Homo sapiens: one gene and its partners. The protein of the gene in region 2 interacts with the protein of the main gene of each other region in a biochemical or structural test. Each region holds a gene or a part of one and is shown on either strand. Other genes may lie near its edges.

Evidence for each region. Proteins that work in one complex are often made in the same cells at the same time.
Region 1: the proteins of RNF146 (region 2) and TNKS form a complex in vitro, tested with the Homo sapiens proteins (3 studies listed by BioGRID and IntAct, with this or other methods).
Region 3: the proteins of RNF146 (region 2) and PARD3B interact in a test that uses a peptide from one of them, tested with the Homo sapiens proteins (one large-scale study listed by IntAct).
Region 4: the proteins of RNF146 (region 2) and LNX2 interact in a test that uses a peptide from one of them, tested with the Homo sapiens proteins (one large-scale study listed by IntAct).

The regions. Positions count from the first base shown.
Region 1 is NC_000008.11:9,747,912-9,751,411, reverse strand, and holds part of TNKS (poly [ADP-ribose] polymerase tankyrase-1), read right to left. Parts: intron 3,389-3,500; coding exon 3,200-3,388; intron 1-3,199.
Region 2 is NC_000006.12:127,282,529-127,286,918, reverse strand, and holds part of RNF146 (E3 ubiquitin-protein ligase RNF146), read right to left. Parts: exon of another isoform or gene 1,571-4,390; intron 870-1,570; exon of another isoform or gene 742-869; intron 304-741; coding exon 1-303. UniProt on the Homo sapiens protein: E3 ubiquitin-protein ligase that specifically binds poly-ADP-ribosylated (PARsylated) proteins and mediates their ubiquitination and subsequent degradation. May regulate many important biological processes, such as cell survival and DNA damage response.
Region 3 is NC_000002.12:205,297,475-205,300,974, reverse strand, and holds part of PARD3B (partitioning defective 3 homolog B), read right to left. Parts: intron 446-3,500; coding exon 239-445; intron 1-238. UniProt on the Homo sapiens protein: Putative adapter protein involved in asymmetrical cell division and cell polarization processes. May play a role in the formation of epithelial tight junctions.
Region 4 is NC_000013.11:27,551,030-27,554,529, forward strand, and holds part of LNX2 (ligand of Numb protein X 2), read right to left. Parts: intron 2,411-3,500; coding exon 2,179-2,410; intron 1-2,178.

The DNA.
Region 1 (3,500 bases), on a different chromosome or scaffold from region 2:
ATGTAATTTTTAAAGATATTTCTTCTTTCATTTAAAAAAAAGCACTTTCAGTGTTAACTGTCACCCTTCTTTAGAAAAAATTTCTGTGTTTACTATATTTTGTTTACGTTTAAACAGCTATAATCTGGTTATTTACTTCACACTTAATAATTTCATGTACAATTAACATCTGGTGAAATTTCAAAGGGATGACACTTTAATTTAGCTCATTTATTCATAAACTTTTCAGTTTTTAAGTATTAGATGCAACTGCTTTTCGAGTATGCGGGAGATAGTCTCCAAAGACAGCCACCCATCAATTCCTTCCTCCCGTCATGTATGCCTCCCCTTGAATTTCTGCCCCCTACCCGCCGAATGTGGTTTGCCCTGTGAGTTGTCTTGACCAATAGAATGGAGAAGAAGTGACATTCTGAGGCTTTTGAGCCAGGCTTTAAGTGGATTGGCAGTGTCTACTTTTACTCTCTTAGAAGCCATCTGCCATGTTGTACAGAAGTTTGGGCTAGACTACTGAGTGGTGAGATCCTATGCAGGGAGAGCCCTGCGGGATGAAAGGCCATCTTGGAAGCTCCAGCCTCTGCTGAGTTCCCAGGTGCAGGTAACTGCAAAACCAGAACCACCCAGCTGAGCCCAGTCAACTCCCAGACGTGTGAGAAATAATAAATTGTCACGTTAAACCCTCAGTGGGTTTGGGGGTGGCTTAGTGGGCAGCAATAGAGAAATGAAATGCACACCAGTACCTGGAAGTGGGGTGCTGGTGGACATGTGGCTTTGGTTGGAGGCGTGAAGGGTGGCCTGGTTATTGCTGAGGGAGGCTGTGAATGGAAGATAGATAGGCAAGTGCTACTGAAGGCGAGAGAAAGGGGACTAATGCTGTGTAGCAGAAAGTTTGGCAACGCTGCCACAGGAGGTCTTACGGAAGGTAGAACGTAAACCTAAATAAATTTGTAAATTTGGCTAAGGAAATTTCCAGAACAAATTCTGCCTTGTCAACTGGACTGGTGTGTTTATCTGCCCATGATAAGGTACAGGAAGAGAGAAAGGAACTGTCCAGTTCTCTTTAAGGAAATGTATTCACCTAACATTTGCTAGCTTAGAAAACAAAATTATTCACCATTCCCAGCCTCTCCATCAGCAAAAGTTTCTTCAAGTAAGGCACAGCCTCAGGCCAAAGGTCAAATCCAGCGTGCTGACAGGAAAACATGGCCTCAGAATAAAAATCAACTAGAGGTACAGATATATTACCTCAAAATCTTTAAAAAACCTCTAAGGTGGTACCTTGTGAATTCCCTTGGCTAGATGAAAGAGCTTCAAAGGATCTTATGGGCATTGTCCCACTGCACCTTTACTTGGATTCCATGTTAGAGAGGGACCTGTCTTGAAAAGATTTGTGGGTGGAGCTTTTGGCTGATGGAGTGGTGTGTAATTTGATGGGAAATCCAAAAGTTTACAAAGGAAGAGTTGTACTAGTTTGGACTAAAAGGGACAGGTAGATCAAAATGATAAAAGGCTCAGGGTCCCGAAAATTTCTAGGAGCAGGGAACAGGTTGAGAAAGCCACTTGGCTGTAAATATGATCCATTTCTTATGAAAAGAGAAGGATAATTCAGAGGGCATGGCCAAGAGCTACAGAGGCTATGTACAGTGGTTCACACCTGTAATCCCAGCACTTTGGGAGGCTGAGGAAGGAGGCTGAGGGAGGAGCCCAGAAGTTCAAGACTAACCTGGGCAACATAGCAAGACCCTGTCTCTACAAAAAGTAAAAACAAAAAAAATAGCCAGGCATAGTGGCATGTGCCTGTAGTCCCAGCTACTCAGGAGATTGAGATACGAGGATGGCTTGAATCTAAGAGGTTGGGGTTGTGGTGAGCCATGATCACGCCACTGCACTCTGGCTTGGGTGACATAGCCAGACTGTGTCTTAAGGGGGAAAAAAAAAAAAAAGAAAAGAAAAAAAAGGAAAAAAAAAGACAGCCACAGTGAACCACTCCCTGGGAGCAGAACTGGGCCCTAATCAGGGATCATTCCCTAACTCCAGAGTAGATGGCCCTGATAACATGTGTCTGGCTGAATTTTAGAATTGCTAAGGACCCAGTGATGACTATCTGCCCCCTGTTGGTGGGGGGAGCACGTGGCAGGTGAGTGTAATTTGAATGTGGGAAAAATAGATTTAATTTGTATTCACAGGGAAGACTGTGGCTGATTAAAGATGGCCACGAAATTTTTGCTTCTCCTTTCAAAGAAGGTGGAATCTGTTTTCCTATCCCTTGAACCTGAGCTGACTTCATGACTTGCTTTGCACAACAGAATGTGGCAGAAGTGACAGCATGTCAGTTCCAGGCTTAGCCTTAAAGAACAATGACAGCCTCTGCTTTCTCCCTCTTGAGATACAATTATTCTGTGAAGAAATTCTAACAAGACCACTTAATGATGAGATGCCACATGGGACTAGAGAGGCCCCTGCCTTCTAGTTGTATCTGTCAAGGCCCCAGGCATATGAATGAAGCCGTCTTTATGTTTCTGCCCCAGCCACCAGCTATATGCAGTTGCACAAGTGACCCCAGGTAAGACCAGAAGAATCTCCTAGCCAACATACAGAATCATAAGAAATAATAAGTCATTATTATTTTAAGCCACTGGGTGTTTTGAAACAGTTTGTTACGCAGCAATCAATAAATGAAACAGAACATAACTTGAAAAAACATTTCTGGCTTAAAAATTAGAAATTACTGTGACTATACAGTAACTCCCTGGTTTTCAGAAAGTTCACGGAAGATGATGCAGTGCTTAACTTTGCAGTTAAATAATACTGCCCAGAGTTAATTTTTCTTTGACTATCTCACAGACTTAGGTAAATTATCATGAACATTAGTTGCTCTACAATAACATGCCAAATATAGAAGGTACAAGATATTTTACTAAATATAATTCTTTGAGGGTACACTCTAAAAACATGTTTTCTTAAGATCCATGTTTTCCCAGCAGGCTAAGAATGGCAAAAAATTAAATTAACTTACTGTTTAGTTTGTCTTAAGAGTTTTAAATTATATTTTCATAGAAAAAGTGTGAACTTCAAAAATTTTCAGAAGATCTCTGTTCTAAGTGAAATAAACACGACTAAAAGTAAGCTGGTGAACCCGAGAATCTGATGTCATCTGTGAAAGTAGAAGGAACAATAATCAGTATCTGAAATGAGGACTTACTGTTGCCAGATCCAGAGGCGTCTGGCCTTCCTGGTTCTTCATGGTGGGGTCTGCACCATGCGCTAGGAGGAGGGCGCACAGCTGCGTCCTTCCTTTCTGGGCTGCTTCATGGAGGGGAGTAAACGCCCACTTATCTGTTGCATTTACACACGTGTTGTATTTTATCAATAAAGCCGCTATGTCAACATGCTGAAAAAAAAGAAAAGGATACAAAGAGTTAAGAATGAGATCATCTGGTAAAGCACCATTGTGTATACCTGTTTTTATTTAACAATTCACTCCTCTGTATCTCCATTTTCAT
Region 2 (4,390 bases):
CCATTTCCTCTACTTGCTGCCTTGAGTTCTTCTGGTGACAACAAGGTTGGCTTGTCAAGGAAATCCTCGGGAATTTCTTGTCGACAAAGAGCACACCGCTTTCCAAGCCATGAAGCTCCTTTTACACATAGATAGCAGAAAACGTGCTTACAGGGCAGACTGACTGGATGAACACATGTTTGCAGACAAATGGCACATTCAGGGACGGTTAAAGAAGGTGCAGTATTAGAACAGGACTCGTTCGCTTTCCTGTTTGTAGGAAGCATGTTTATTGAATGATCAATTTCACCACAGCCAGCCATCCTAAGAAAAAATACATATAATATTAAAGTCATGTTTTAATTCTTGCAATATCTTAATTTAACAATTATGAAAACACTAACCACCTATGATGTGCATTATATGCAAGCCACATACTAGACAATGGGGATATGAAGATGAAAGTAGAGGAAAAACTCTCCAACCGATGAAAATTTTTTGTAAGCATCTACTTGTACATACCTTGGGAATGTATAAAAATTCCATCAGTGCACTTAACAGATCAGCCCTGGAGAAACACACTGAAGAACTATATAATGAAAAGCTGCATCCAGTGAGGGGAAAAGGATACCTTGAATCATGGCAGCTATTATACAGTGAAATGAATGCTAGACAAGAAATCTAAAAATCTGAGTTTTAGAGTCCTTTATTAATTATGTGCTCTTAGGCACTCAGTTAAACCATTAGTCTAAATTTCCTTACCTGCAAATCAGAGTTTACAAAGCTCAGGTAAAAATGGACAAAAAAAGTGCTTTGTAATCACTAAAGCTTCATAAAGGTAACAATCATATAAGACCAAAGGAGAAAATAACATGAATATTGAAGATCCCCTGAAGAGGAAGAAGAAAAAAGATTTGTCAAATTGGATGTATCTAGCTTAAACACTGACATAAAATTTATAATTTCTGCCTTATTGATTCAGATAAACATTTACTAAACACCTGCCATGTTCCAGATACAATACTAAGTACTGATGGGTCTAAAGATAAATAAGACACACAACTACTCTGTTAAATAAGGAAACATACATGCAGATAATTACAATATGGCCTGATTCCTGCGTAATCAAAATGTGTTAACATACTTACTAAAATAACAGTAAGAGAGAGATGAGAGGATGGACATAGGTTAGAAAGTTTAGTGTTCATTCAGAGGGGCTGGGCAGTGGAGCAGATTCCAGGCAGAAGCACATGCAAGACACTGAGTCAAATAGTCATACAAGCAATGGAAGAGCAGGAGATGAAGGTGTAAAGGTAATCAAAAGTTAAGTCATGAAAGCCTTATTGTGTTATTGTGCCCTGCCAAGGAAACATCTAATTTTTTTCCCCATGGTAAAAAAAAAAAAAAAAAGACATTTTAAAAGGGGAGAAAATAATGGAGTAAACCACTGATAAGTAAAAAAGACTGAGAAATAAAGATGAAGATGTCAGAGATTGAAAGCTTAAAATGAATGACAATCTCTCTGCCAGCTAATTCTGCCATTCTAAATGGGTCAGTAGTTACAAAAGATATAGTCAACAAGAATGCTTACGCTCATCAAAAATTGAAAAACAATAATCCTAGGCTATCATCACAGCACATTCAATCTTCAAACAATCCTTTTTTTTCTTTTTACTGCCTTTTCTGTGTTCTTGGTTCCTCAATAGACAAGGCTCAAAAAGATGGCAATTTTCTAGTAAAGGAAGCAACACAGTAAGTTTTTAAAAAGATGGCACATATCTAGTAAAGGAACCAACACAGTCTCAATGGAAGAACTGATCACTAAAATGTTTAATTTCCAAATTATTTTCAACTTTTAATAACATTTCCAATCAATTCCTTTACCAGAAATTCTAGGTTATAGACATCAAGAAAGTACAACTTTCTCCTAACCTATGGAAAGTTCTAAGTCAGGGGTGTCTAATCTTTTGGTTTCCCTGGGCCACACTGGAAGAAAAAGAATTGTCTTGGGCCACACATAAAATGCATTAACACTAATGATAGCTGATAAGCTAAAAAAAAAAATCACATAATGTTTTAAGAAAGCTTATGAATTTGTGTTAGGCCGCTTTCAAAGCCATCCTGGGCCACATGTGGCCCACAAGTTGGATAAGCTTGTTCTAAGTAAACCCTAATAGGACGTCTTAGTATGTTAAGCACTATAAAAGCTTTCAAATATTTTGAGATAAACACTTGCCTTCAAAGATCTTGTAACTTGAAACAACAATAAGTTACAAAAGAAGGCATATGTTTTTAAAATAGCCAATTACACATTCCCTGCCTATTTCCTCCCCTAAAAGAATTGGCTGTGCACACATTTTGTTAGGTTTTCAGAAACTTTCATCCCTTTCGATTTAGGTCAAAAAAGTTAGTTTCCATAAAATTCCTGAAAATCTTTTTGTTCCAAGTTCCATATTTATTTAAAGCTCCAATTAAGAAAAAGAAAACAAGAAAGTGATCCATTTACAAGTAATAATTTAAGAAAGATTCTACTCATGATTCTATTCATGAGACTAAATAGAAAAATGGGCTGATGACCACCATTACTTTGGAAAAACAACAGCAACATCTTCATATAAGAAGTCTACATCTTAAACCATCTAAGTACCTTATGAACAAAGGACAGGATCATAAACTGAAAACATAAATAAAAACAGAGTCTGGTAAAATGAAAACAAGACACCCAACATGTCACGTGGACCAATGCCATGCTTTTAAATACATAATTCCAAACCTATTGTATTTGCTTTAAGTAAAATGGGCCCAAGAAGTCAGTTTTCCATCACATACAGCTCGTTTATCTACAGAAAAAAAAGTTTCCAACCTAAAAACATTATCCTCCACCCTACTTAATATGATTAATATTTTGCATGACTCTTACTCTTGCATTTATGAATAAACCAAAACACATAATTTCAAAACTAAGAAAGCAATTACAATCATCCCAGGAGAAGGCATGAATTATAATAACATAATTGGAAAGGCAAAACAATCCTGTTTGTGCAGGTATTTTGGTTCCATCATCAGAATGAAGTGAAGTTGGACAAAGTTAATCTGCAAACAATGGACACCAGACAGCTAAATGGTCATTATTTCATCTGAAGCACTCTTAACTATCAATTTGCCATAGCAATTTATAAATTCTGATTCTGTTTAGCCCATCAAGTATACTGTTAGTCTATCACCAACTAACAAATGGGCAGAAAAACTTAGTGATATTTCTTATTTAATTCTGAATGAGGCACATGCAATAAGTAAGATAGAGATAAAATGTGTAACAAGATAGACACAAAGTAACCCCAAACTGCTAGTCTACCTATAAGACATACTTCAAGGCTTTTTAAAAAACCATTTTAATCTACCCTACACAGTCTCTGTTTTGCAGTTCCAATGATCTTAAAATAGGTGGGAGACTAAATGTATGCAGATGATCATACCAATATGTAAATAAGAAAGCTTTTCCCCTCCCTTTGTGTAGAGCAAGTATTAATGCTAATCAAAAGAGGTATTCCCTATCTCATAAATGTCTCAGAAAATTCTAATTTTGAAAAAGGGAATTTATTTCCAGTTTACTAAACTAAGAATTTAATACACAGAAATTTGGAGTGACGTTAGTCCAATTCTATTAATAAGTATAATACATCATTTACTTTCAAAGACGTTTTTACTGAATTCTTCATGTGATATTCCAACTTTTAAGTATAAATCCCCTTCTTCCAATAGATAAACCATGTGAAATATTTCTGCCAGACTAATAAGAGTCTATTAATACTAAGTCTTCTTCTCAAGAAGACAAAATATAGAGGGGTATGGGCAGAGTTAGTGGAAATCTCCAAGAACTCAGATTTCCTTGAAACTTCTTGGACAACTAGTCAAATGAAAGGCAAAATTATTATAAGCAAAAAAGATCTTTAGTATGTGTAGTATTCAAGAAATTTTTAGCTTGCAATAAAAACTCCAAATATTAAAAATCAGATTTTTAAAGTCTGAATTTAGAATCCAATTACAGACACACAAAAAGGGAACAATCCTACATATAATTTCAAGGGGCTTAAGGATTTCTATGAAGCTGGTCCACATATGAACCACTAATGAGACAAGAGGAGTTCACTGAAAGGTTTTACGTCAGGAAATAACAGCCAGTTTAGTAGCTTCCAGACCATTTGAACAGCAGGTTGGAGGAAAGTTTGGTAATGCAGGAGGAGGTATGGCGAAAGGGAAACTAGAATATCCAGGTAGTAATGCAAGTATAAGATAATTAGAGGGAGGTTGCTGATGTAAGTTTCCAACAATAGAATAGAAGAATGCTAAGGAAAAAGAAATGAAAGCATTTGATTACTGATGGATGGTGACACATTCACCAAAATTCAGA
Region 3 (3,500 bases), on a different chromosome or scaffold from region 2:
GTGAAGGAGAACATTTATTTAGCCTTGCACTGTAAAATAAATTGCATATTGTGTTCTCCAATTCCATGTTCATTAAGCCAAAGGGCAAAACATATCAGGAAAATGAATTACTTTTAATATCAAAAATATAATTGTGATCCTTAAATCATTTTTTTCTGTAGTTGAGCACACATTCTTGCCCATGATTTGCAGATAATAATGAGATGAAGAAGCCATTTAAGGAAGCATATCATCCTACCAGCTTCTATTTCTTCAGGTCCATCGTAGGATTTGTCAATGGCTGCTCTAAAGCTCTCATTGCAGCCTCGGCCTCGAACCATGTGCGGCCGGGGCCTGTGAAAGGGAAGGTCATTCTTCCTGACCTCGGCCACTGCAGTCTGCAGACTCTCCAAGGAGCTGGACTTTTTCAAACCCAGAGTTGGACCAAAATCTTTGCTTGGAGATTCTGGAAAAGAAAGGGCAAAAGGTCACCCCTCTTCTAATGGGGCAGTGTGGTGTAATGCTATTGTTCTAAGAATATTTCTGTCTGGACATCCCAAAAAAGGGGTGTTAAGTGGGTGGGAGTTGGGGTTATACTCCAGCTTTGCCACCTTTTGTAACCTTGAACAAGTGGTTTGACTTCTCTGAGCCTCTGTTTCCTTTTCTAAAGCTGTGATAAAATTTAATATGACTATAGGTACATTTCTCTCTATGCAGAAGTGTATATGCATGTGTGTCTATAGGCATATACACACACACCTATGAATTTGAAAGGCTGTAGCTATTTATAGAGACTATGTATGTGAATGAGAGTGATTTCACATATGTGAGAATACCCACATACACACATGCATACTCACAGACACACACACAAACATACCAAGCACCTAACATGACGAGAGCTTCTCTTCCAGTATCGTCCTAGCACTCCCACACCTGACAGCTTTTATCATTGCCATGGTTGCTCATATGATTAGTAAGGAACATACTGGGCATGGAAATAAAAGAACATTGAAGTGACTGTGATTTTTCTAATTAAACACTTTACCTTACCCTATTGGCTATTAATGTATGGTAACTGCCATTTATTTAATCAATCAATCAAGCAAGCAAAGCAAGAAAGAAAACAACTTTTCTGTGTCGATGCTATAGTTCTGAATGTATTCCTATTTGGTATCTAGAAAAGAGGCAACCTTTTAATGCAATATAAAATTATAAAACAGAAAATATAGAGCACAACTGAATTTGAATCATTGCTTTTCTGGTATATAATGTTTTTCATTTGTGCGGTTTGCCTTGCCCTCTACCTGCCCCCTCCCACTCCATTCCTTGACCTCCATTCCCACCCCCAGCTAGTCTCTCAATTATCAATAACAGGATTAGGTTATATAAATATTAGCAGCATTATATATATATATTATATATATATATATAATATATAATATTAGCAGGATTATCTTTAAGACAGAAGGAATTCTATCAGGGCTCTTGTCTCTACAGTCAAAGCTTTTCCACCAGGGCCACAGCTCATGTTCCTTTCCAGTTACGAAGGAGACTACTGTCATGAAGTCTACTTGCATTTCTGGGAAAAAACGACTGTGTCATTTATCAATAGACAAGAGTACCTATTAAGAATTATGTATGTAAAGTACCTACTTCAATGTCTAGCACCTAGCAAGGCTCAATAAACGGCACTATCTTTTATTACTATCATCACTATTTTTGCTTCTATTATCACTGCCACTATGAACACTACTACTAGCAGCTGCACACAGCATTAAGGAATACAAAAGAAGTACAAAAAAGCACTGATGTATATATATACCTATGTGAAGTGAAATAGCAATACACACCTTTACCTATGATCCGAACGTGTTAAAAATAGTCAACATAATGAATAATCGTAATAGCTAATAATGCATGGAGTGCTTAGTCTGTGTTAAGCACTATTCTAAATGCCTCACCCACAGTAACTTACTATAATCCTTATAGTTGTGCTACTGGTACTACTTTTAGCCCCATTTTACAGATTCAGAAATTGAGGCACACAGCATTGACATAACTTGTCTAAAGTTAAACACTTAATAAGCATCCAGACCAGGAGCTGGGCCGAGGCAGCCTAGTTCCAGCTTTTCTGCTGTGTACCATGTACTTTACTGTCTAAAGATGTATTTGCTCTGCACCCTCTATTTGATTATGGTCAAACAACTTAAACTGCCCTACATTGTCCTCATTTCTAAAATAAGAATATTAGGCTAGATTAACCCTGGAGCCTCGTCAAGTAGGCAAACTGCAAAAATTGGATGTTGCGTTATAGTTTCATCATTAACTTATAGGAGACAACTTTGCACTTTGAACAATATACAGGATGACAATAAACACTAGATTTTATAAACCCTACTGGCTATTAATGTAGGGTAAGTGCAATTCAGTATTCAGTAAATTCAACAGAGTATATTCAATAAATGCAACAGAGATAAGACTAAGCAAAAAAAAAAATACAAAAAATTTCAGGGACAAATTTCAGGTGTTACTTGCAAGTCATAAATACTGAGGATATGTCACTATTAAATCCAGAAAGAGGCATATTTTTTATATTCCCAGGAAGGAAGATAAGTTGAAGAAACAGAAATTGAATAAGATGATTTCTGACAAGAAAACAAAAGGCATCACAGAGGTTTGGGTGTATAGAAGCAATAGTAAAAGCTTTGGAGTTTACAGAAAATATTTTATAATATCAGCCCCTAGGGATGTCTGACATGAAGTTTAGTGAAAACATGAAGATGAAAACTATCTGAGAAAGCCCTGATTCTCTGTCAGCAATAGTAACCATCTTTTATTTATTAATTGCCATTCAGGAGATTACATTAGAGCCCAAACTGTAAGCATTCACGTCAACGTTTAGCAATAAATTCCAGGGAACATGAAAGTGAATAAATCGTCCAAGATAGAAGGCACGTTATCTAAAAGGAGCTCATGTGAAGCTCAGCAAGAAGTCATAGCTAAGAAGAAACAAATACACTGTTCCTCATTCTAAGCAAACTGAACATTAAGGATTCATGGATTTTGCAAGATTAATAGAGTTGGCAATTAATTCACTCTATATAAATAGAAGTCACAAAGTAGAAGTACTAACTGATGTTGGGCAATATTACAACCTAACTCTATTGGATGTAATACATGGTAATATTAAAAGCAAAAAGGGTGGTTGAGTCCTTAGGTTGTAAATGTGGACTCTGGAGTTTTCAGGATTGGAAAAAAAATTCTATTTATTCCTGGAGAATGCACAGAATGTAGCTGTAGAGTAGGGACTCATGTTAGAGAAGAGAACCAAAATCAGGAAAGTCCTTATAAGGATTTACAGGTACAGTGAACTGACTGAACTGGGGGCTCTGACAAGCACCTTCTCCAGGGATCCCCATGTCTTTCATATGTTTGAGGGCTCCTACAGAAGGTCAAGGTTACCTGCTGTGTAAGGGATTATAATGTCAATTGAAAGGCATCAGTGTTAAATTCCAACA
Region 4 (3,500 bases), on a different chromosome or scaffold from region 2:
CCTTTACTTAGGATGTTTTCATTTTAAGGGAGACTCTAATTGCCAAAATAGAGAAATCAATCTGAAAAACACTAACAAAAAATCTTTTTCTTTTTTTTTCTATCATAGACAAGCTGGGTACAGCGTCATGTGTCTGTAGTCCCAGTTACTGGGAGGCTGAGACAGGAGGATGGCTTGTGCCCAGGAGCTTGAGGCTGCAGTGAGCTATGATCATGCCAACTTGGGTGACAGAGCAAGACCCCATCTTTAAAAAAAAAGAAAATATATACACATCTATACACACACATGCATATATAAATGTATCATAGACACTGAGAAACTACAGTTAGAATGCTACTGCCAGATTGCAGGATGTGTCCAGAGAGGGAGAAAAAAAAAATGTACTTATGTTTCCATAGCTCTATGGATTTGGGAACAAGCAGTGAGTAAAATCTTAAAAACAAAACAAACAAAAAAAGCACACCTAAATGATAAGGAAAAAAAAACTCTTCATAATAAATAAATATCTTTCATCTTTAGGTGAAACTGGATCTAAATGCACGGAAGGCAAGGTTTCCTGTTTTAAATCCATAATAAAATAATAAATATACATAATATAAATAATTAATTTTAAAAATCCTGTTTTATTATTTCTTAATAAAGCCAATTCTATAAAGCAATGTTTACCATGCCAGAACTTCTCATCTTATCTAGTTTCCTAGCTCACTGATAAGAAAGGCTTCTGGGATGGAACAAGGTCCCATGCACTGGCCTGGATTTAAAGGGACAGTGTTGGTTATTTTCCTAATGCTGCATCTTCTGAAACAAACAGCTTTCTTGTATACCCCAGCAAATCGCAGTGGAAGAATCTCCCTTTTCACGAAAAGCAGAGCAGAGCTGCTACACTATGCCGTGTGAAACCTGCATATAGGGGCCACCTGCACCCACTGAGGAGGACACATGGCTGTTGAATATAGCTTTGCATTCAACAGAGACCTCCATACACACATTGAATAGTAGCCTTTTATCGACAGGTATTCTTTCAACACAGGTGGGCTCAAAAACAGATTTTACTATACTGTGTATTTCTCATCTAAAATCTTTGCTATTATGCCTGGCACACCAGAAAATGCTCTGAAAAAAAGAGGTCAATGTGCCAACCTCCAAACTAGACTGGTATATCAGATAAGGAAAATTAAAGGAAGCACTAGGGACCAAGTTTCTCCAGGACGCTGCTGCTCTCTGCCTGCCCCATCATTAGAGGTGCAGACAAGCTCTGAGGTCTGCAACGTGCTGCCCAGCCACTGCACGAGTAGACCACTTCTCACCCACTATGCGCAAAGCGCCTTGAAGCACTATATAAATGCTAGTTGTTGTTATAAATGTATCCCACGAGTCAGGTGGCTCAGAAAATAGCAAATTCTTATTGTTTTATTTTAAAGAATCAATAATTTTCATACTTGGTCAAAAGTCAAAATGCTTCATAGCTTAGTTTTAGGATTCTTAGGTACGGTAAGAATCTAAACGGATTAGACAACAAATGATGATAGGAACACATTCTTCCTATCTCAAATGTCAAACAACAACCGCGGAAAGGAATGTACCCTGGGATGCCACTGGAGGTTCCATGTGCTTCTGTGACCCCGACACTGACCAACCACAGCATATCTTGGCTGGTCACATTTATAAAAAATAAAAGTGAAGCAGCCATTCTTGAACACTAATGGTTTGGCTTAATAGACTCTTGTATCCAATAAAAATTGAGTTTTAAATGCCACCCTTTTTAGCGAGAGTTAAAATAAATTTAAAAAGGTGTTAAGAAAGGCTTCTGGGATGGGGGGAAGCCCCAAGATTGGCCTGGGTTTTCTGATGAAAAATGCATGAAGTCTCAGCACATAGCGGAATGAGTGCTGGTAAACGACAACTTTTCTAAGCAAGAGGCTGGGTTATCCAATCTCATGGCTAGCCCACTGAGGAGCCTTGACAGGAATGGACACAACTGCTTTCTTTGTGTACCTTTTAAAGTGTAATATCCTAAGAAAAATTATCCTTTTCTTTTGTAATTTGATTTGATGTTGCTATTTTACTGAATTAAAGCTTTTTTTTTTATCCCAACGAGTAAATTTATCATGCTACACACTGATAAGGGCTGCAAGCATGATTATGATTTCCATAAAGCAACAAGAAAGCGCTCAGTACCTGGGAAGCCCAAGCCACATGACCCATGATGGGGACCAACTGGCATCATACTCATTTTCGCTGAAAGTACTCGGCTGCTCCTCCGCGTTCTGAGTCGCCTCCTCAACAATCTGGACCTCAAGTGCTTTAAGGGCAACAGCAGGGGACGCGGCACTGGCTTTCAGCATTGCAACTGCCTCACTGTGACTTAAATTGGTCAAATCAATGCCGTTGATATTTAGCAACACATCACCTGTTCAGATGAAGAAACAAGAAAAATGAGCTGAGCCACTGAGTTTTCACCTGCAAATCTTGTTGTTTATAAACTAAGCAACAAAAGTTAGTTCCCCCAACTCTGATGAGATAAGGTATAATAATAAATGGCATTTATTATTTCTTTGTAATTTTTATAATATTGAGAAGAAACCCAATACACAGAAAACATTCCATAATTTTAAAATAATGTCATAATACATAGAAAAAAGTGTGGCCTGAGGCACCTTGACATGATTGGAAGTTCGAATCATCAGTCTGAGTTTAGCTGTGTACAGGCCCTGGGCAGGTTCATTTCTCTTCTTAAGAGTTTCAGAGATTTCTACAATTCTGTCCAATCAAAAATCACTTGATCCTTTGCCCTTAGAAATAAATCTTTAATGTATTCTGCTTTATATTTACACAGTTCTATACATAAGGACAGCCCTGTATAGTTTATTCAGGGCAAACATCAGAATATGTACAAAGAAGCTATCCCTGGGCCCACATGAAGAAATGAAACTTGCGGTTTGAATGTCTTCCCTGTTTCAGGAAGAAAAGAACTGTTGCTCTGCTAAGTAATATAATAAAAAATGGCAATGAGGATTATATCAAAGGTTAGGAAAGGATTAGTTTTGTAGGAAGCAGACATTTGTGCTACAAAGTCTACAGAAATTTATCTCTCCCAATTTATCATCAGTTTTTCAGATTATTAAAGCAAATCATTCTCATTGTAGAAAATTTAGAAAACACAATAAAAGAACAAAAAGGAAATAAAATTACCCCAATACTACAACTGGACAAATAACCTTTACTTAATAGCAGCTTGAGAAATAATTCACATACTATTCAATTCACCCATTTAAAGAACATAATTTTATGGTTTTAATATATTCACAGTTGTGCAATCATCACTACAGTAATTTTGAGAACATTTTAATCACTCCCTCTATACCCATCATTTCCCTTCCCCAACCCTAAGCAACTACTAATCTACTTTCTGTCTCTACAGATTTGCCTCTTCTGAACATTTCATGTAAATGGAATCATACATGGTCTTTTATATCTAGCTTCTTTTACTTGCATAATAT